2 linked regions of the Homo sapiens genome follow. Each later gene encodes a partner of the first gene's protein in a complex. Each region holds a gene or a part of one and is shown on either strand. Other genes may lie near its edges. The genes, in order: LSM10 and LSM11.

Evidence for each region.
Region 2: LSM10 (region 1) and LSM11 share a complex: the UniProt entries of both Homo sapiens proteins name them as parts of the heptameric ring U7 snRNP complex.

Annotation. Positions count from the first base shown.
Region 1 is NC_000001.11:36,393,419-36,405,012, reverse strand, and holds LSM10 (U7 snRNA-associated Sm-like protein LSm10), read left to right. Parts: upstream 1-7,104; 5' UTR 7,105-7,246; intron 7,247-10,859; 5' UTR 10,860-10,883; coding exon 10,884-11,255; 3' UTR 11,256-11,577; downstream 11,578-11,594. UniProt on the Homo sapiens protein: Appears to function in the U7 snRNP complex that is involved in histone 3'-end processing. Increases U7 snRNA levels but not histone 3'-end pre-mRNA processing activity, when overexpressed. Required for cell cycle progression from G1 to S phases.
Region 2 is NC_000005.10:157,751,078-157,762,283, reverse strand, and holds the end of LSM11 (U7 snRNA-associated Sm-like protein LSm11), read right to left. Parts: intron 10,895-11,206; coding exon 10,755-10,894; intron 8,281-10,754; coding exon 8,197-8,280; intron 7,431-8,196; coding exon 7,020-7,430; 3' UTR 1,575-7,019; downstream 1-1,574. UniProt on the Homo sapiens protein: Component of the U7 snRNP complex that is involved in the histone 3'-end pre-mRNA processing. Increases U7 snRNA levels but not histone 3'-end pre-mRNA processing activity, when overexpressed. Required for cell cycle progression from G1 to S phases.

The sequences.
Region 1 (11,594 bases):
AAAGAGATAAATGGAAAAGAAGCAATCAGAGAAATGGGTGAAGATAAATGACACAATGCCCAGAAAAAACAAAATACCAAGGAGGAGGGTGATCAGAATGCTCGAGCACTGAGGGGGATGCCAGAAGCGAGGACTACAAGAGGGGATATGGGTTTTAGGAACAGGGATATCATTAGCAACCTTTGCTGAAAAAGTTATTGGGGTCTTGGGAGTAGAAACCAGGTTCCAGTAAGCAGAGCCATTGGTGTGAGAAAGTGGAAGCCTCGGCCGGGCGCAGTGGCTCACGCCTGTAATCCCAGCACTTTGGAAGGCCAAGGCGGACCTGATTACGAAGTCAGGAGATGGAGACCATCCTGGCTAACACGGTGAAACCCTGTCTCTACTAAAAATACAAAAAATTAGCTGGGTGTAGCGACAGGCGCCTGTAGTCCCAACTACTCGGAGGCTGAGGCAGAAGAATGGCGTGAACCTGGGAGGCGGAGCTTGCAGTGAGCCGAGATCCCGCCACTGCACTCCAGCCTGGGCGACAGAGCCAGACTCCGTCTCAAAAAAAAAAAAAAAAAAAGAAAGAAAGTGGAAGCCTCACTGTACAGCAGCAGTTCTCAAACTTCTTCTTGGTCTTGGAACCTCTACATACTCTTCAAAATGATTGACAGATTATGTGGGTTATATGTATTTTCTGTCATATTGGAAATTAAAATAAAAATGTAATATTAATTCATTCAGAAATTAACTCATGAACATAAATTTACATTATATATAAATATATAAACTAACATATTTTATATATAAAATATATAATAAACTCACAAATTTATATATATACATGTATAAAATATATAAACTCACCAGCATTAGTTTATATATATATAAAATGTATAAACTCACTAACATAAATTTATATATATATATATAAAATATGTTGGCCGGGCGCGGTGGCTCACGCCTGTAATCCCAGCACTTTGGGAGGCCGAGGCGGGTGGATCACGAGGTCAGAAGGTCGAGACCATCCTGATTAACACGGTGAAACCCCGTCTCTACTAAAAATTAAAAAAAAATTAGCCGGCCCTGGTGGCCGGCGCCTGCAGTCCCAGCTACTCGGGAGGCTGAGGCAGGACAATGGCGTGAACCCAGGAGGCGGAGCTTGCAGTGAGCCGAGATGGCGCCACTGCACTCCATCCAGCCTGAGCGACAGAGCGAGACTCCGTCTCAAAAAAATAAATAAATAAATAAATAAACAAATAAATAAATAAAATAAAATATGTAAACTCACTAGCATAAATTTATATATATAAATTATATAAACTCACTAACATAAACTCGCTAACATAAATTTCTATATATATAAAATATATAAACTCACTAACATAAATTTGTATATACATAATATATAAACTTACTAACAAATTTATATATATAAATTATATAAACTCACATTAACTCACTAACATAAATATGTATGTATATAAGTTACATAAACTCACTAACATAAATTTATAAACTATATAAACTCACTAACATAAATTTTATATAAAATATATTAACTTACTAACATAAATTTATATATAAAAATATAAACTCATTAACATAAATTTGTATATATAAAATATATAAACTCACTAACACATTTATATATAAAATATATAAATGCACTAACATACATTTGTATATATATAAAATATATAAACTCACTAACATACATTTGTATATACATAAAATATATAAGCTCACTAACATACATTTACATATATATATATATATATATATATATATATATATATATATATATAAAAAATATAGGCTGGGTACAGTGGCTCATGCCTGTAATCCTAGTGCTTTGGGAGGCCGAGGCAGGTGGATCACCTGAAGTCAGGAGGTCGAGACCAGCCTGGCCAACATGGTAAAACCCTGTCTCTACTAAAAATACAAAAATTAGCCAGGCATAGTGGTACGCACCTGTAATCCCTGCTACTTAGGGAGCTGAGGCAGAAGAATCACTTGAACCTGGGAGATGGAGATTGCAGTGAGCCAAGATCACACCACTGCACTAGCCTGGGCAACAGAGCAAGACTCTGTCTCAAAAAAAAAAAAAGTGTGTGTGTGTGTGTGTGTATATATATATATATAAACATAAACTCACTAACATAAGTTTAAAACTTATGTAAGTAGCAGTATTATCAACAATGAGGTTTATCTGCGGCACAATTCTCGCTCACTGAAAAATCCCAACACCCAGCCATGAAAACTTGCAATATAGTCGGCATTGGCAACTTTTGACAGTCTCTATGGAGACTGAATATTTAAAAGAAGAGAAGCAAATCCAGTCTCACATAGATAGCTGGAAAAGTGATCATACTTGCGGAAAGGCTGGCATAAGGGCCTTTTGAGAAGTTTGACTGTGGAAAGTAAGAAAACAGTAGATTGCATGGAGGAGAAAGACAATTTTATTTTTAGAATAAGAAGAGCCCAACTGTGATTGCTGATAAAAAGGGAAGCCTCCTAGGAGAGATGGAAATCAATGAATGAGAGAGTGAAGGAATGAAAGAAGCCTCTTTTTTTTGTTTGTTTTTTGTTTTTTTTTGAGACAGGGTCTTTGTCACCCAGGCTGGAGTGCACTGTGCAGTGGCACAGTCATAGCTCACTGCAGCCTCAACCTCCAGGGCTCAAGAGATCCTCCAGCCACAGCCTCCCACGTAGCTGTGATGGCAGCAGCGGCCCATCTGGAGCAGCCAGCTTCAACCACTTCATGCCAGGCAGAGGTGCAGCTGGGGCTACGTGCTCTGTGGAGCCAGCAGGGGCCAGAAACAGATGATGCCAGCAGGAGCCCCACACCCTACCAAGTTGACGGGGCATGGAGCCCTCACTCCTGGGCACAGCTGCAGCAACCCAGCCATGGCTCCAGACCCGGGCATCCCTGTGCTCTTGAGGGCCCAGAAAGCCCCTGCCCCCGCAGGCTCAGAAGTGCTTGCTCCCACTCCCTGGAGTCTCCCCACTCTTGGCGCCCACTCCAGTGCAGAGCAAAGTTGTGGCTAAGCCCGGGCACTGTTGTGACCCAGCTTGATGTGCGTGCACTGTGGGCGACACTGACACACCAACCCCCGCTGCCTCAGCACCCCCCCAGACTTTGGGTGCCAATAAGCATGTGATGGAGGCCAGGGGACTGAGGGTGGCTTGGTGCAGGCCTGCAGGCTCCCACCAGCACAGGCAATCTGGGCACCAGCAGACAGCACGTTAATAGTGCCAGGAGGCAATCAGGTTCCTAGGCAGAAGGGGCAGATGCCCAGTGAAGCCCCACCTTCAAGCCAGGGGTGGCCTGAAGCCTGGGGGTGGGGCTGCCAGTTCCAGGTGGAACCCAGGACAGGAGTAAGAACTTCATTGATGCCTTCCAGCCAATTGGATGGTACTTTTTCCAGGCCCACCCATGGCCACCCATGGGCCAACCAGCATGCACTTCCTCCATTCTTCGCACATGAAAACCCCAGACTCAGCCAGTCTCAGACACTCCACAGGACCTGCTTGCGGAAAGGAGCCACCCACTTCAGGTCTCCCGAGAGCTGTTCTATCACTCAATAAAGCTCCCTCCAGCTTGCTTACCCTCCAGTTATCCACATAACCTCATTCTTCCTGGATGCGAAACAAGAACTTGGGACCTGCCAAACAGCGGGAGTAAAAGGAGTATAACATATTCCTGGCCAGCTCGCTGAGCTGCGGGTGGTGACACACTCCCAGACTGCAGGAGTGAAGAGTGGTGACCCTTCCGGGGGCCCACCCTCCACCAGCGGGTAGCTGTGCCACATGACAGGAAGCGGTGGCTGGGCCTAGCCAGCCCAGGAACCACGGGCCAGAGCAGGGCAGCACTGAGCGGTAGGACTGAAAGAGCTGTAACACATATGGACTGAAACACGCCCCCGCCCCCCAAGATGCCCCGCCCCTGCTCCTCGTGTGGTGAAGAGCTGCAGCCCTTCTTGGGGCCCAGACCTCCGGGCTCCACAAGCCAGGGCTGTGACACACTGTAACACCCTCTTTGTGGCTCTGTGGTTCCTGGTGTCTCTGAGCTTTCGGCCACCACTGTGTTCCCCTTGTCCAGATGCTGGTGCCCACAGCAGAAGCCACTTACGGTATGTCTGGTCCAGCCGCAGCCTTGCACAGAGCCAAAGCCTGTGCCGGCGCCTGGAGCTGCCAGTGCTGGCCCTTGGAGCTGCCCACCCGCTGCAGCAGCCGGCCTATCTGGCTGTGTGCAGTGGTCGGACCCTGTGCTCACTCGCTCACACATCCCTCACTGCTCCACACCTGGCACGCCTTTGGCAGGCGTGGGATCCGAGCCCGTAGTGCAAGCTGAGCCCAGCCTGCCAGACTGAGCAGGCAGAACGAGCCCAGCAGGCACAAGCAAAAGTCAAGCACAGGCGCTGCTAGCCACAGAGGTTTCCAGATGGCAGAGTGACACCCTAAGGTTCTTGTGACAGCTGGGACTATAGGTGCACCCATTACACCCAGCTAAATTTTTTTTTTTTTTTTGAGACGGAGTCTCGCTCTGTCGCCCAGGCCGGAGTGCAGTGGCGCGATCTCAGCTCACTGCAAGCTCGGCCTCCCAGGTTCACGCCATTCTCCTGCCTCAGCCTCCCGAGTAGCTGGGACTACAGACGCCCGCCGCCACGTCCAGCTAATTTTTTGTATTTTTAGTAGAGACAGGGTTTCACCATGTTAGCCAGGATGGTCTCCATCTCCTGACCTCGTGATCCGCCCGCCTCGGCCTCCCAAAGTGCTGGGATTACAGGCGTGAGCCACCGCGCCCGGCCACACCCAGCTAATTTCTTAAAACATTTTTGGCCGGGCTCGGTGGCTCACGCCTGTAATCCCAGCACTTTGGGAGGCCGAGGTGGGCAGATCACCTGAGGTAGGGAGTTCGACACCAGCCTGACCGACATGGAGAAACCCCGTCACTACTAAAAATACAAAAATTAGCCGGGTGTGGTGGTGCACACCTGTAATCCCAGCTACTTGGGAGGCTGAGGCAGGAGAATTGCTTCAACCCGGGAGGCGGAGGTTGTAAGCCGAGATCAGGCCATTGCACTCCAGCCTGGGCAACAAGAGTGAAACTCCATCTCAAAAACAAAAAAAAATTTAGAGATGGGGTCTCACTATGTTGCCCAGGCTGGTCTCAAACTCCTGAGCTTAAACAGTCCTCTTGCCTTGGCCTCCCAAAGTGTTGGGATTACAGGTGTGAGCCACCACCCCCAGCCAAGAAGCCTAATTTACTGAGCTTCTTCTCTGTGCCAGATGCTTTCACACATTAATGAAGGTCACTTAAATCTTACAGTTCTCTGAGAAAGGCCTAATTTTTTGTTTTCATAACAAGCAAATTGAGGCTGAGGAAGAAAGTAATTTTTCCAAGGCTATACAGAGTGACTTTTAAAAAATGTAAATCAGGTGGGGCACAGTGGCGTGTGCCTGTAGTCCCAGCTATTCTTGAGGCTTGGGTAGGAGGATCACTTGAGCCCAGGTAGTTGAGGCTGCAGTGAGCTATGATCACACCACTGCACTCCAGCCTGGATGACAGGGTGAGAACCTGTCTCTACAAGTAAATCAAATCACTTCGCTCCCTTTCAATAGCCTGTCATAGCACTTCTAGTACTAGATGAGAAGACTGAGGCACAGAGAAGATACTAACTTGCCCAAAGTCACAATTAGCCAGGAGTAGATTTGAACCTAGGCACTGTATCCGGAGGCTGCACTCCTAACCATGAAATCTAAACTCCTTACCTTGGCTCACAAAGCCCTATATGCTCTGGTTCCTGCTTCCTCTCTGGCCTCTTGTTATACCACTCTCCCCAGCTTCCCTGGCCTTTCCTGTGTTCCTAAATTGTCAAGGTCATTTCCCCCAGGTTCTTTGCATGAACTGTGAAAAGAAAAAATTTAACTTTTAATTGGTGATTTGACTTTTTTTTGCCAAATTTGTTAAATCTGACTTTTATTTGCAACTCTAGAATCGGGCAACACTTCATTCTATAAAATGGAATGAGTGTTCAAATGAGCTGAGCAGAGGAGATTGGTTTTACAGCCAGAAAAGGGCTGAGGAAAGCAGAAACAGAAAACAAAAAGATTGGTTGTTTCAAAGTTACTTTCCTTGTAACTTTGAAGGCTAAAGCAGAGGGGACTTCCTTATCCTGCCAGCTAAAACAGGATGGTTTGGAGATCTAGCTATCTCTCACTCTTCTGATTTATCGGAATATCAGATAAACAACTTAGTTTCCACTTGGTGATGTAGAACTTTAGCATGAGTGACTCCATTTTGGTTCTGTTGGGCTTGGTGCAGGAGCCCTGTTCAAACCAATGGCCTCCAATTTTTTTTTTTTTTTGAGACGGAGTCTTGCTCTGTTGCCCAGGCTGGAATGAAGTGTTACTTTCTGAGCTCACTGCAGCCTCCACTTCCTGGATTCAAGCAATTCTCCTGCCTCAGCCTCCCAAGTAGGTGGGACCAGAGGTGTACGCCACCACGGTGGGCTAATTTTTTCTATTTTTTGTAGAGACAGGGTCTCCCCATTGTTGCCCAGACTGGTCTCGAACTCCTGGGCTCCAGTGATCCTTCCGCCTTGTCCTCCAAAGTGCTGGGATTACAGGTGTGGGCCTCTGCACCCGGCCCTGCCTCCTATAAATTTTACTTAACAAACTGTTCCCGCTAATTGCAATGCTCCTCCCATAGTTTTCACAAGCTTGGCTTCATGTCACTAATCTCAACTCAAATGTCACCTTCTCAGGGCACCCCTGACAATCCAATAAAAGACCACCTTGTCACCATCACATCACACCTTTAATCTTCTGAAGAAATTTTTCCCTATTTTTCTTCTTTGTTTTCTTAAGACTCTCTCCCCTGCAGCGCCATCAGCTCAGGGAGCCACTTGATCTTGGTCACTGCTCCATGCCGGAGCCTGGGAAGGAGCCTGGCCCAGGTCGCCGGTTCAATGAATGCGTGCGGAATGAATGAACGACTCTAGTGAAAGAGACTCCAATGACGCAGGCCGGGATTTGCGGAGCACGAGCCCCGCGCCGCGAAGCATTCTGGGGATTGTAGTTTCTCCGTGACGCGGTGACTTGCAGAGCACTGACGCACTCTGCGCCCGGAGGACAGAGCGGCCCGGTCGCCGGCATGGTTTCTCCGTCCTGCTGCAGCCGGCGGGAGGCAGCCAGTCCAGGCGCCCGCTAGCTTCGGCGGCGACCCAGACGGGGAAAGCGGAAGGAATGTCGCGTGGTGGGTCCGGGTCGGCGGTGCAGGGAGCCCCGGGGCGGAATGCGGGGGATGCCAGGACCTCCGGAAGGAGGTGCCGGAGCCCAGGAAGCGTTTTCTTCCCCATTTACCGAGTATAGCTCCTTTCCCCAGACCCGCTCCCGCTGCTCTGAGTAAGCGGTGCTCATCCCGTTTTACCGGTAGCTTAGCTAGCTTGGAGAAGCTAAGTGGTTTGCTAAGTGATCGCCCTCCTAGGAGGTGGCAAAGCCTGTTCTAGAACCCGGGCCTGACTCGAGGTCCGGTGACTGCTCTTTGCAGTCGCAGCAGCAGCCCCATACCTTTGCTTGATCGCAGATTCATCAGGCTGCAGCCGGGTGGCTGGTCGTTAGGCCATGCCCAGGGACCTAGCTCCCAGGCCCCCTCGTCACTGGCCTAGTCTGGCTTGCCACGCTCAGTGCCACAATGCACAGCCCTGGACGGGATGCTGAGTGAGGTCGTAAAGAGAGAGCGTTCCACCCCCTTTAACTCAGGTCTGAAAATAAGGGATAGGTAAGACATAGTGCACTAATACATTATCAGGGCATGTTGAAATCAAAGGAGAGTACCTTTAGTGGAGTGTGATTCTGGTAGCTTTGTTTCTCCTGTAGTTTAATAAATGTGGAAACAGGTTCAGAGACATTAACTTTTCTAGGTTTTCATAATTAGGGGTGGAGTGGGGATTCCAACCTAGGTTTCTCTACCTTCAAAACCTATGTACCTTATATAATACCGGTTGGGGGTTTTTTTCCCCAATTCATTATCCAGATTTATTTTCTTTTTTTTTTTCTGAGAGTCTCGCTGTGTCACCCAGGCTGGTGTGCAGTGGCACAATCTTGGCTCACTGTAACCTCTGCCTCCTGGGTTCAAGCGATTCTCCTGCTTCAGCCTCCCAAGTAGCTGAGATTACAGGTGCGCCCATGCCCAGGTAATTTTTGTATTTTTGGTAGATACTGGGTTTCACCATGTTGGCCAGGCGGGTCTTGAACTCCTGACCTCAGGTGATCCACTCGCCTTGGCCTCCCAAAATCCTGGGATTACAGGCGTGAGCCCTTGCACCCGGCCTCATTACCTTAATTTCTACTTACATAACAGCTGCATGGTGTAGACCAATAGTTCCCAGAGTGTGGGCCCCTGACCAGCAGCATCAGCATCACCTGGGAACATGTTCAAAATGACTTTATCTCTGGGCCTCACCTCAGACCTGAGTCAAACTGGGAGTGGGGCCCAGCAAGCTGAGTTAACAAGCCCCTCAGATGATTCTGATACACACTAATGTTTGAGAACTACTGGTGTCAACCAATGATTCTCAAACCTTAACGTGTATCTAATTCACGTAGGGGGTCATGTTAAAATGCAGTCTGTTTCCAGCCAGCGTGGAAGATGGCAGTGAGCCACTCAGTGAAGGAGTGGATTTTATCTCAGAACAGGCTTGGGGAGAGACCTGAGATTGCGCATTTCTAACCAGTACCCCTCAGCACTTTGGAGTTATCTGGGGAGCTTTCTTTTTTTTTTTTTTTTTTTTTTTTTTGAGATGGAGTCACTCTGCTGCCCAGGCTGGAGTGCAGTGGCACTCCACTTGCAGCTCACTGCAAGCTCTGTCTCCCAGGTTCACGCCATTCTCCTGCCTCAGCCCCCCGAGTAGCTGGGACTACAGGCGCCCGCCACCACGCCTGGCTAATTTTTTTGTATTTTTAGTAGAGATGGGGGTTTCACCATGTTAGCCAGGATGGTCTTGATCTCCTGACCTCATGATCCGCCCGCCTCGGTCTCCCAAAGTGCTGGGATTACAGGCGTGAGCCACCGCGCCCAGCCGGGAGCTTTTACAAAATAGGATACCTGGGCCCACCCCTCTAACCAAACGAATCAGAATCTCTGGGGTGGGGAGGTTGGGTTAAAAACTCACCAGATGATTCTAATGCACACCTGGTGTGAGGTTTGGAGCCAGACGGCTATGGATTTTCTTTTTTTTTTTTTTTGAGACAGAGTCTCTCTGTTACCCAGGCTGGAGTGCAGTGGCGTGATCTTGGCTCACTGCAGCCTCCACCTCCCGGATTCAAGCGATTCTCCTGCCTCAACCTCCGGAGCAGCTGTGATTATAGGTGCTCACCACCATGCCCGACTAATTTTTGTATTTTTAGTAGAGATGGGGTTTCACCATATTGGCCAGGCTGGTCTTGAATTCCTAGCCCCAGTGATCCACCCACCTTGGCCTCCCAAAGTGCTGGGATTACAGCGGGGAGCCACCACGCCCGGCCTGTGGCTACGGATTTGAATTCCAGCAATTCCACTTATTTACTGTGACCTTGGGCAAGTTACCTCTCCTAGCCATATTTTTCTTTTTTTAAAGTTATTGATTTTTTAAAATTAATGTATTATTAGGAATGATACAGACTTTTGTTGTTAGTCCTAATAATTTGTCTTGCATTCTCAATGTAGATAATCATATAATTTATAATTGACCAACAAGGACAGTGATCTTCCTTTATAATTATTGTTTCTCTAAATTCTTTCCCTTCTTTCCGTAATCGTTTTTTGAACATTGCATTGACCATTACCTACATTTTACTGTTGATTAGAAGCCATAAAAGGCATCCTTTTCTTGTCTCTGACCCAATAGAAATGCTCACCATTTTCTTTATTTTTTGAGACAGAGTCTTGCTCTTGTTGCCCAGGCTGGAGTGCAATGGCGCAATCTTGGCTCATTGCAACCTCTGCCTCCTGGGTTCAAGCAATTCTCCTGCCTCACCCTCCCGAGTAGCTGAGATTACAGGCATGTGCCACCACGCTTGGCTAATTTTTTGTATTTTTAGTAGAAACAGGGTTTCACCGTGTTAGCCAGGCTGGTCTCGAACTCCTGACCTCAGGTGATCCACCCGCCTCAGTCTCCCAAAGTGCTGGGATTGTAGTCGTGAGCCACCGCGCCCGGCCAATGCTCACCGTTTTCTTATAGGTTTTTCTTTTTTTTGAGACGGAGTCACTCTGCCGCGATCTTGGCTTACTGCAAGCTCCGCCTCTTAGGTTCACGCTATTCTCCTGCCTCAGCCTCCCGAGTAGCTGGGACTACAGGCGCCCGCTGTCACCACACTCGGCTAATTTTTTTTGCATTTTTAGTAGAGACGGGGTTTCACCATGTTAGCCAGGATGGTCTCAATCTCCTGACCTCGTGATCTGCCTGCCTCAGCCTCTCGAAGTGCTGGGATTACAGGCGTGAGCCACCATGCCCAGCCTTCTTGTAGGTTTTTTTAAAAAATCAGAGTTGGGGTCTTGCTATGTTGCCCAAGCAGGTCAGCAGAGCTCTTGGGCTCAAGTGAAGCTCCTACCTCAGTCTCCTGAGTAGCTAGTACCACAGGTGTATCCCACCGCGCCTGGCCATCCTAGCCATATTTTTCTCATTCATAAAATGAGCATAAGTAATCCTTGGCTTGCAAGTTGGTGTGAGGATTCTATGAGACATGTGCGGGAAGCATCTGTGTCCACAGATACAAAAATTGCAGAGGTGGTCTGTGCTGGGAATTTTGTTTGAGAACCTGGTGGAGGTGAGTTGGCAACTGTACCCCCTACCCTGCTATAGCTGCCATCTGTGTGCTCCTGTCCACAGCAAGCAGGCAGCTGGTGTGGAAGAATGGCGGTGAGCCATTCAGTGAAGGAGCGGACCATCTCTGAGAACAGCCTGATCATCCTACTGCAGGGCCTCCAGGGCCGGGTAACCACTGTGGACCTGCGGGATGAGAGCGTGGCCCACGGACGCATAGACAATGTCGATGCTTTCATGAACATCCGCCTGGCCAAAGTCACCTACACGGACCGTTGGGGGCATCAGGTCAAGCTGGATGACCTCTTTGTGACAGGCCGCAATGTCCGCTACGTCCACATCCCAGATGACGTGAACATCACCTCGACCATTGAGCAGCAGCTGCAGATTATCCATCGGGTGCGAAACTTTGGTGGCAAGGGCCAAGGCCGGTGGGAATTTCCCCCAAAAAACTGTAAGTGAGGCCCTCAGCAAGCCCTGGCCCCAACTCGGAGTCCTCCAGTGATCTCCGGAGCTAGTTCCCTGCCCTCACACCCTGTCTGGTACCCGAGAAGAAAGCAGGGCCAGGCCAGAAGCTGGTGTCCAACAGACACCACCTGTCAAAGCTGCCTTTCACAGGGTTCCACCTCCCAGACTCACTCTGGGACCCAGAATCCTATATGTGGCCTTGGGGTAGGTGACAATCCCCCTTTTTGATGATCTGAATCTCTGACTTATTGATTATGGAACCTGTCAAGTAGTTTTCAACTCTCCCAGTGAGGATAATTAAACATGCTCAGCCTGAGCCACCTCTAAGTGTCT
Region 2 (11,206 bases), on another chromosome or scaffold:
ATTAACTCAGTCCTGACTGGTGAGCATTTAACGATAAATTGTAGCAGTGACTGGAGACTAGAGACTCCGGTCCTTCTGGGACCTCTAGGTAAGCAGTTTTCTTTAACCCACTGCCACCTAGTGGTAACTGAGCAGACTGAAAAACTCTTCATCTATAACCAAGGAGAGAACGGTTGGCATTTTTTTCTGCTTGCCACTCCTATCTTGGAAGCACAGGGAGAGTGATCGATGTGTCTCTTTCCACTGGCCTCCACTCCCTGCCAACATTTAACTGTCACTGTACATTTACAGTGTCAAGCTAGCTGACTCTTTTGCCATTACTTTGATTAATTAGGACATTCTCATTTAATCAGAAGTATCTGAGATTCAAAACAAACAGGCAAGGACCAGACATACAGCACACGGGTCTTGCCTCCCTTTCTACTGCAGCAGTTAGCAACTTGGTGTGTGTCAGCTGGGCTCAAGTTAATGGATCCTTTAAAGTGAGAAACTGGGTCTTGACAGTTAACTTCAGGTTTCCCCCTCTAAGAATAAATGTGACTTTTCTTGTCTACCTTACCAGGTGATTCAGTTCTGGAAGCACACAGAAGAGATCCAAGTAATCAATGTGGCAAATCTGGGACAGCTAAACTTCCTGTACATGCACAGTGGAAAGCTGGTAGAAAATTTAAATATTTTTGGAAGAATGTGAAGATTGATTTGCCAAATGTGGTAAAACACTCAGAGGGAGCAGAATGAATGGTGATTTCAGCAGATCATGAACAGAATGGACTAGTGCCAGTGAGCTATTAGGTAGAATAAATTCACAGGGCAATTACCACTGCTTGCAGCTTAGAGGAGATAATTCAGAATGTGGGCCAAGTTCCTTTCCTAAGCATGAACTTCAAGTAAACTTGGAAGAAAAAAGCCACCTCAAGAGTGGTGTTTTATTTTTATTTTACTTATTTTTATTTTTTGAGATGGAGCCTCGCTCTATCGCCCAGGCTGGAGTGCAGTGGTGCAATCTCAGCTCACTGCAACCTTCGCCTCCTGGGTTCAAGTGATTCTCCTGCCTCAGCCTCCCGAGTAGCTGGGACTACAGGTGCCTGCCACCATGCCCAGCTATTTTTGTTTCCTTTTTTTAGACTGAGTGTTGCTCTGTGGCCCAACCTGGGGTGCAGTGGCATGATCTCAGCTCACTGCAGCCTCTGCCTCCCGGGTTCAGGTGATTCTCCTGCCTCGGCCTACCGAGCAGCTGGGATTACAGGTGCCCGCCACCACACCTGGCTAATTTTTGTATTTTTAGTAGAGACAGGGTTTCACCATGTTGGCCAGGCTGTTCTCGAACTCCCAATCTCAGGTGATCCACCCGCCTCGGACTCCCAAAGTGCCACGATTATAGGCGTGATCCACTGCGCCCGGCAAGAGTGGTGACTTAGATGTGTGGACTTTGGTAAAGAAAAGGTACAAGGTTACAATAATGTAAATGCAGAAGGCTTGAGATGGTCTAACTTTCTAGACAGGTGTCTTCACTTGGTAACAGACTCCCCTGCCTCCTCTCTCCCACCCCCCTAAATCAACAGAGACAAAGCAGCCAGGATATGAATACAGTTTATTACAGTTTTCAGACTCCCATTACGACACATATCTAAAGCTGAACATTGCAAACTGACCTTACTAGCAGCAATTCTCCCTAGACAGGAAGGGTTTCAGTTAATTTAGCAATTAGGAGTAAAGACAAACTTACAAGTCATGGTTTTTCTTGTAGCAGCTGGTATATGAGCAGTGAAACTATAGATACGTAGAGTCATTCAGGTTTAGCCTTGTCTAAAAAAACATTAATAAGTTATGGTGCAGAGGAGTATCCCCAGGGTTGCCAAAGAGAAGGCTGATGTCTTTAGATGTCAGTATGAAACAAGCAAATCACTTTCAAGACATGGCTTACTATTTGCTTTACTGTCAGGACAACAGAAAAAGAAGTGGACAGCTACCCTAGATTCTAGCTCACACATAATTCAGCCAGATAATCATCATTTAAATAATACCCCTTGAAATTTTTCAGACTTTTCACAGCTCTAAAAACACAACATCAGACATAACATCACACATTTGTTCCAAAGGACTAAAAATCAAAAGCAATTGCAAAGTATTGGGAATCACTTTTATGGCTTTCCTAAGGGACAGTCCCCATCTTTCCAAGGAGTGTTTTTAAAGAAGCACTAACTCTGGTAGGTTATCAAACTATTTTTTATTCTAAATAAATAAAAGACTAACTGAAGGTCTCAGGTGCACACTTATTTTTCCCCGCAGATCTTCAAACCATCCAGAACTATTTCTTGTCAGAGAGCTTTCATTTTTATTAGAGCAGTGCAAGATAACGTACAAACATTTGAAAAACACTCAAAATACTGAGAGTAAAGGAGGCCCAACCCTTCCTCAGGGCCCAGAAAACTGACAGGAACCCCAAAGGCTTATCTTAAATCCATCAACTCAATTTGCCAGAAAGTGCTGACAGACCACCCACCTTTGCAACACAGGGCTCAGGATTCTTGCATTTACAACCACTAAGAAAAGCCTTCTGGGAGAAGAAAAGCACAGACTGGTGAACATAAGTTACTGAAAAAGGGTTGACTGCATTCTATATCTGGCACAGGAAAAGAAAAATTCAAACAGCTGTGAAACCATTATATTTACACCACGATACTCTTACATGAACCTTGACTTTCCTACAGCAACAGTTTCATTCACAAAAAATACATAAAAGATTGGAAAGCTTTGGGGTAGCACCAGTGACAGCTAGCTGTCATTGAATAGTTTTAATTTTTTCCTAGAGGCAAAATTTAGAGAAAACTTAAAGAAGCAATTTATAGAAATGATTCTATTTCATGATTTTGCCTTTGTCAGCTGCTATGGAAATGGTGCAAGCAGAAATATAAATATCCATTCTGCATCAAGTAAGTTTCTATTTCTTTTTTCTCAAAGGGTAGAAATGGTACATCTCAATTTTTGTAAGGCTTCTGAGGATTAAGGGCAGCTCATCGCTCAGGACTTGACAATCTCTAAAGGAGCTCCTGGACTCTTTCACCACAAGGATAGATGGAGCCACTCCTATCCACAACTCATAGCAAGGATCTCTATGCATCTAGATTTTAATGCCAACGGTTTCTTGGCTTCCTGACTTGACATGCACCATGCACAAAGAGCAAGGTACTGACTGGTCTAAAGCCACTCTCCCCGGACACTGCTAACTCTAGCTAACCATCTCACAGACATCCTGCCTCTGATCATAAGATGGTCCCTGGAAGGAAGCATAAACACTTCCCAAATACTAGAACAGACAGCCCAAAGTGCAAGTTCTACTAATGGGAGAGTAAATGAATCACCTCTGTGTACAGAGAATGGCACAGGAAATTGTTATGAGTATAAAACCATATCTCCCCTTTCTTAATCACTTGTTATTATCTAACAAAGGTAGATACTTTTGAGAAGACCTCACCAACTACATAAGTATGTCCTATAAATTGTCTTGAAAACATATTCCCATGTTTAAAGATTACTTTGAAGAACCAAAGTTGAATGTTCAAAAATAAAAACTATTCTTACCAAGTTTCCCAAGCCCAAATCCCTGGAGAATTCTAGAAACCAGTTTTGTTGGTTTCTAGTATTTCAGTATTCAGTATTTCAGCTGCATCGAGCCCCCCTCAGGTGAGCTAGTGGGAGTTCCCCGACTCTATCATTATGTTCCTCATTTTCTTTCCTTCTCCTGAGGAAGTCTTCAGTTATTTCCATAGCAACTTGTGATAATGTCCTAAATGATCACATTTTTTGAATAGCACATATATTATTGGGACCTACTTTTTCTTTCTTTTAAACAATATCTTCGATAATAAAGAAAAGGGGACCGGGCGGGATAGCTCACGCCTGTAATCCCAGCACTTTGGGAGGCTGAGGCAGGTGGATCACCCAAGGTCAGGAGTTCAAGACCAGCCTGGCTAACACGGTAAAACCCCTTCTCTACTAAAAATACAAAAAATGAGTCAGCCATGGTGGCTGACCCAGCTACTCAGGAGGCTAAGGCAGGAGAATCGCTTGAACCTGGGAGGCAGAAGTTGCAGGGAGCTGAGATCGCGCCACTGCACTGCCTAGGCAACAAGAGAGAAATTGTCTCAAAAAAAAGAGAGAAAGAAAAGGGAGTAATCTTTAAAAATGAACTTCTGTTAAAAAGTAATTATCATGCTTTATACAAAACAGCACATTTACTAATTTACTAGATAGAATTCATTCCAGAACCACTGTCCAGACCAAACAAACAAATGGGAACATAGAGCACATAAAATAGATCATACACAGTTTAAACATAATTTTCATAGCCAGAATTGTCATGTTGGGCAAAAAATGGTAAATCAATCCTTATACGGCTATATGAAAATTATAGGTAAACATAAAAACAGGCATATGTTTAAGTCAGGTTAGATTTAACTAGGCACTGGAATGAATGAAAACTGATTATATTCCGTTGGATTCCAAATTTCTACCTTATTGGGAAAGTAGAGTACATCATTCTAGCCGAGGGATGAGAGGGCAGGCAGATGAGGATAGCCACACAGGTATACGCAGTGTTGCCTGATGATTAAACCTGACAACTATTTTGGGAACTGAGATTTCAGATACACTATTTAGAATTTAGACTGGCAGCTTCCAAAGATTACTGTTCACTTGAGTTTGTAAACTGGAACCTCTATAAACTTTAGTGCACCTGATCTGGCTCTAGAGTACACTTTACAATGCATTTAAAAATAAAAACAAACAAACAACAAACTTCCACAGATTGCCCTTTCGGGATGTGTCATTTTTAGATGCTCATTCTCCATTTGGTGCTACCATATAAACCCCTTGAAAAGTTCAGGGGATTCTTTCTGATAATGATCAGAAAAGGGTGAGGCCTGGGATATAGCGGGAGCAGCAAAAAAAAAGTTACTCTCCTCTTACTGAAGATACTCTTCTGAGAACTTCCATTGTCCCTTAGGAGGAAGGAATGGAATATGGAAGTTCCAGAAGATACTGCTGCCTTCCGAAGATAGTTACAACAGGATCATAACTATGAACCCTAAGATTACTTTTTTTTTTTTTCCTTTTTTTGAGACAGAGTCTTGCTCTGTCGCCCAGGCTGGAGTACAGTGGTGCAATCTTGGCTCACTGCAAGCTCCGCCTCCCGGGTTCACCCCATTCTCCTGCCTCAGCCACCCACGTAGCTGGGACTACAGGCGCCCGCCACCACGCCCGGCTAATTTTTGTATTTTTAGTAGAGACAGGGTTTCACCGTGTTAGCCAGGATGGTCTTGATCTCCTGACCTTGTGATCCACCCGCCTCAGCCTCCCAAAGTGCTGGGATTACAGGCGTGAGCCACCGTGCCTGGCTGAGATTACTTTTTTATGTAGCACCTGCCTTGCTTCTGTGTCTTATAAAGACACAGAATTCTTACAAAGCTATGAAACAGAGTCAGGAAAAATTACTCATGGCACTTAAAGATGTTTAGAGACTGTAAAATGCCTTCATTTTTTTTTTCTCAATGCCCCTGTGAGGTAGGTGTCTGTGGGGAAAAAGCTGAGGCACGGAGGGGTTAAGTCTGCTCACCTTTTCATTGCATGATGAGCCAGTGGTCCAGCTAGCAGGACCAGGTGTCCCAGCTCCCTAAACTTTATTCACCCTGCTTCTCAGAAGGCTTATTTATGTTACACAACAAATACAGCAGGGGAAAGTTTTCTTTTCATACATTTTAACTAGTTGGCTATTTCTTATTCTCACCTTGAACATAAGTTATCTCAGATAAAACCAAATAAAAACAAAACAAAAAAATCAATATTGCCTAACAGTCTGTGTCAAATGCAGCCTATTCTGCACTAGTGATTGAAAAAGCACAGAATATGATTCAAGTAGAAGTATTTGTGGGTGCTATGGTGTTCCTGTTGACTCAAGCCAGGCTGTGAGTAAAGTGTCGCTTTAGACACTACCCACTGTACTTTGTAAGAACTTCTTTGGCCTGACACAAGGGAATAAATCTACCACCCCTGTTTCATGGTGAAACCATATTCTGAAAGATATTCTACACATGCTGGCCCTGCCTGGAAAGGGGACTCTCAGCCGTGTGATGTGTATTACCGAGTTCATGCACAACTCTTTGAAGCTGGACATGAAGGTCACAGTCTCCTGACATAAAGCTCACAGGACAGTTCACACTACGGACAGAGGGGCAATACCACAGGGTACATGCACTAGCACCATGCCACAGAAGTCAAAGAGAAGGACAAGAAGCCACCACACAAGCATCTTAGAGTCCCATCTGGTATGCCATTTGCAGAGGCTACCTCTGGTAAGGGGAAGACTGAAGAGGTCCTGTACTCCTTTCCATAATAAGAAGAAGGATCAAAACAGAGCACTCATTGCTGGCTGCTTTGAGCATACCGCCTATCCAAATTTCACCCCTACATAAGTTGGTAACTTTCCTTGTAGATATTCAAAGATAATATATGTCATTTCTTCATCAAGAGAGAATCATGTCAGGCAAAATTCAAAAGTTAGTTACAAGACGTGGATGCAGGGCTCCAAGGCAATTTACACCACTACTCTTGGAATCGAATTCATGAGTACTCAGGGCACTAGCTTTTAGACATGCAATACTTCTTTTTGAGACTTTTCTTTCCCCTATAGTATCTAAAATGTAAATTCCACTCATATCATGACCCCTAAGTCTAATGGAAGATCAGATATTTGGTTTCAGGGTCTGAAGTAAATCACAATACCAAATCAGATGCATGTATCTATGAATGCTTTTTGCCTTGATATTAATGCAAACGCCTGCCCTCCCAAGGCCTGTCCTCCCCTTGAGCTCATCTTCCAGGGGGCTGAGCCTGCTCCGTCCTCTGCATATGCAGGACCAGAGGGAATCATTCCAACTCAGAGTTTCACTGGGATACTAGGATACAGCATAGCAGCAATTCATGCACTTTATTTCTAAAAACCAAAGCTCAGGCTGAGCTGGTCACTGTGCAAGATGAACCAGCAGGACATTCTCGCCTCGAATGAAAATCTGATTTATGTGTCGAGTGAATACCTGCTGGTAATCCACTTTGGGCTTTCGCTTTTTCTTACGGGACTGGCCTCTGGAAAGGGTGGTAGCCCTGGAAAAGGTACCTCCCACACTGGAGCCGTCTGTCCGTGTAGTCCTCCCTGACAGCTCTGACCTGGACTCCTCCCTTGCAGAGGCCTGCAGGGAAGAAGGGACAGAGCGGGAACGCTTGTGTGAGCCCCGGCCAGTGTCTGCTCTTCCCCACACTGAAGCCAACTTCCAAGTGGATGTCTGTGAGTATCTAGACAGAGTGGAATCTTCAACTGCAGACTTAGAATCTGCTTCCTTCTTGGAGGAATCTTGAAGTTTCAGCCGATCAAATAGCTATAAAGCAAACAATGATAAATATTAGCCTTCTCTTTAGCCTTCATCACCCTCTTTCAACATACAGAAAAAGACCAAATTCTTTAATTATGTTCTGTGGACTCCTTGCTTTGCAATTTTTTAAAAGTTAGTAATAAATCTTTTTTTTTTTTTTTTTTTTTGGAGACGGAGTCTCACTCTGTCGCCCAGGCTAGAGTGCAGTGGTGCGATCTCAGCTCACTGCGACCTCCACCTCCCAGGTTCAAGCAATTCTCCTGCCTCAGCCTCCCAAGTAGCTAGGACTACAGGCGCCTGCCACCCTGCCCAACTAATTTTTGTATTTTTAGTAGAGATGGGGTTTCACCGTGTTAGCCAGGATGGTCTCGATCTCCTGACCTCATGATTCACCCGCCTCGGCCTCCCAAAGTGCTGGGATTACAGGCATGAGCCACCACGCCTGGCCATAAATTTCCTATTTCTAACTATAATGCACATAATACATATGTCAAGAGAAAAGGCTTATTTCTGTGGTATAAAGCTGAAAGACTTTCAGGTGTTGTAAGAGACAACTTGCTCCTCAAATAATATGCAGGTTACAAGCACAGACTCACTTGAGATTCACTGGAAGCATGAAAAGAGGAACTAAGGAATACCTTGGTACAGGCACAGCTGGTTTATAGCAACAGAGATTTCCCTCTAGGAAATCCTAGTCACTGGGCTCAGGGATCTTAATTCCTAAGCTGGAAAGCATGATGGCTACTCAGGAGGTCAGGGGAAAACTGCCTACCCTAGTGAGAGTCAGTGAAGAATCCCGTTCATATGCTTTGCCTAGGACAGGTTTTCGGTAGGTCTCATCCACATCAGTAAGTGCCTAGAGGAACAGCCCAAAAGGAAAAACATTAGACAGAATTAAAATTATTATTTGTATAGCTTTTTCAGGGAAAAAAAAAAAGGCAGAGTAACATCTATTCAGAGCAGAACTACACTTAACAGATGACTCAGCTCCTAGGCAGAAGAAAATGGTGACACCTGGTACCTTCTGTGTAATATTTTTAAGCTGCTATCACCATATAAGATGGGTTTCACCTATGGATGGTAAGGGCCTTTATGACTGCATGGTAGAAGGTCTTAAATTTCAGTGTGCAAGAATATCTAGGAGGTTTATTAAAATACGAACCCAAAGCTATTCTGCTGGAGATTCTGTTTTGGTAGGTCTGGGATGAAGCCCAGGAACCTTTTGTTTCAACCAGAAGCCCCAGGTGATTCTGATGCAGGATGGCTTTAGATCCCACTTTGAGGAACATTACTGCTTCTTTACCCGCTTCAGTTTCTATGTCTTATGAAAGCAATTAACAGAGATTAACCAGGGTTACACACAGAATTGCTGGTGAGTTCTCATCACCGAGAGCAACCTCGACAGGACAGCTGTTAGGACCAAATGAGAAGTACAAGACAAATTCCTTTGAAAAGTGTAAATCACCCTACAAATAGAAGCTGACAGTACTGTTATAATCACCACTATCATCTAACACATTCTCTTCAATTCTTCAAAGGTAAAAAGATCATAATAAAACATTTTTCCCTGCATTTTGGAAATGAGAAAACTGAGGCTCAGAGAAATTATCTTGCTTACAGTCACACAGTTACCAAGTGATGATGCTAGGATTCAAATTCCCTAATGGTTAAAAACATGGTTTTAGGAGTTAGGCCGAGGAAAAAGTTTGGCACTTCCACTTACTAACAGTGTGATCTGCGACCAACATTCCAATCTCTCTAGAATCAATTTCTTCATTTGTGAAATGGAACAGTAATAGTACCCACAACTCATTCATTGAGATAATATATGAAGCCCTCAGTATAGTACCTGGCACATAGCAGGTACTCAATATATGTTAGCAGCTACTGTTCTTATCCAGGAGGATGCGTGGATGGGGATAAAGCACAGGGAAAAGGAAAGTTGGAGATAGAAGACCATATGGAAAAGAAACACCAGAAAGCTCTGGTGGTTCTTTTTTTTTTTTTTTTTTTTTTGACAGAGTCTCGCTCTGCCACCCAGGCTGGAGTGCAGTGGCATGATCTCGGCTCACTGCAACCTCCGCCTCCCAGCTTCAAGTGATTCTCCTCCCTCAGCCTCCTGAGTAGCTGGGATTACAAGCTTGTGCCACCATGTCTGGCTAATTTTGTATTTTTAGTAGAGATGGGGGTTTCCCTATGTTGGCCAGGCTGGTCTTGAACTCCTGGCCTCAGGCGATCCGCCTGCCTCGGCCTTCCAAAGTGCTGGGATTACAGGTGTGAACCACCGCGTGCAGCCTAGTAGTTCTTAACTACCTCAAATTATAGTTGTGCTATTACATATCCCTTCTCTCCTACAAATGTCTAGAAAAAAAGTAAGCCTCTAGAAGGCTAGGAAGTGTGGCACACTCCCTCATTATAAAACCACCATGTGGCCGGGCGCAGTGGCTCATGCCTGTAATCCCAGCACTTTGGGAGGCTGAGGCAGGCGGATTACCTGAGGTCTGGAGTTCAAGACCAGCCTGGCCAACATGGTGAAACCCTGTCTCTACTAAAAATACAAAAATCAGCTGGGCATGGTGGCAGGGGCCTGTAATCCCAGCTACTCAGGAGGCGGAGGTTGCAGTGAGCTGAGATTGTGCCACTGCACTCCAGCCTGGGTGACAAGAGCAAAACACTGTCTCAAAAAAAAAAAAAAAAGACATCATGCAAAATGCTTTGTTTACTGATGTCTGCTTCACCTCTATCCTTATTTACCTTCCCATGTACTGTAAAGTGCAAGTTCCTTTCTGAAACTTTTGCACCTAGCATGGGGTTCAGCCAAAATGGGAAGTCAATAAATGTTTTTCTTAATTAATGAAAGAATGGTTGGTAGAAAATCAACTAAAAATTACTAAACCGATAAAATAATTGGTCCTTAAGGCTGGGTTTCTCAACCCTGGCACTAAGGACTTTTCAGATTGGATAATTCTTTGTTGTTGAGGGACTATCTTGTGTGTTGTAGACTGTTTAGCTGCAACCCTGGCCTCTACCAATTAGATGCCAGTAGTACCCTCTCCTATAGTGGTGACAATAAAATGTCCCCAGACATTGATGAATGTTCCTGGGAGTGAAGGAAGAACAAAATTACCTTGGTTAAGAGCCACTGCCTTAAGGAGAAGGAAGCAATAAAAAGACCTTTTCTTGTTGTTGCCCAAAAGTATGCAAAAATTCTAGTTCTTCTAAGAAGTTATTTTTTGGGTTTTACTTAATGCAGTTACTCAGGTCCTTTAAATATTATAGAAGATATAATCTGTAGGAGGTTCTCCAGCCCCTTGAGAAAGGCTTAATTACCATATTCCAGAACTTGTCGAATGCAACAAGGAAGCCTGTACAGACGCCCCGAAGTCCCTTGAAAGTGCGGATGTGAACATTCACCTTCACCCCCTCACGGATACAGCGATGGAGTTCACCCAGAGGGCTGCCTTCGTGCACTGAAACAAGAGAAGAACAGTCAGGACAGTTTTAATATCTGCCCTCATTCCCAGAATTAAGCCACGACCACCCAACTTCGGCCAGCAACATGTGGCCCATGGTAGAGTGACAATCTCACTATTGGAACAGGAAGGTCCAATGGGCAACATGGCTCGTACGGCCAACACACACTGACACAAGACTAGATTCCAACAGAATGTGGATCATCCATATGTATGAATATCAGCCAAATGTTTCACTACCGGTATATCTCTTATTCCACGATGTCACTGATTTTAACATGCACTATCACTTAACTTTTGGGGTTGGCC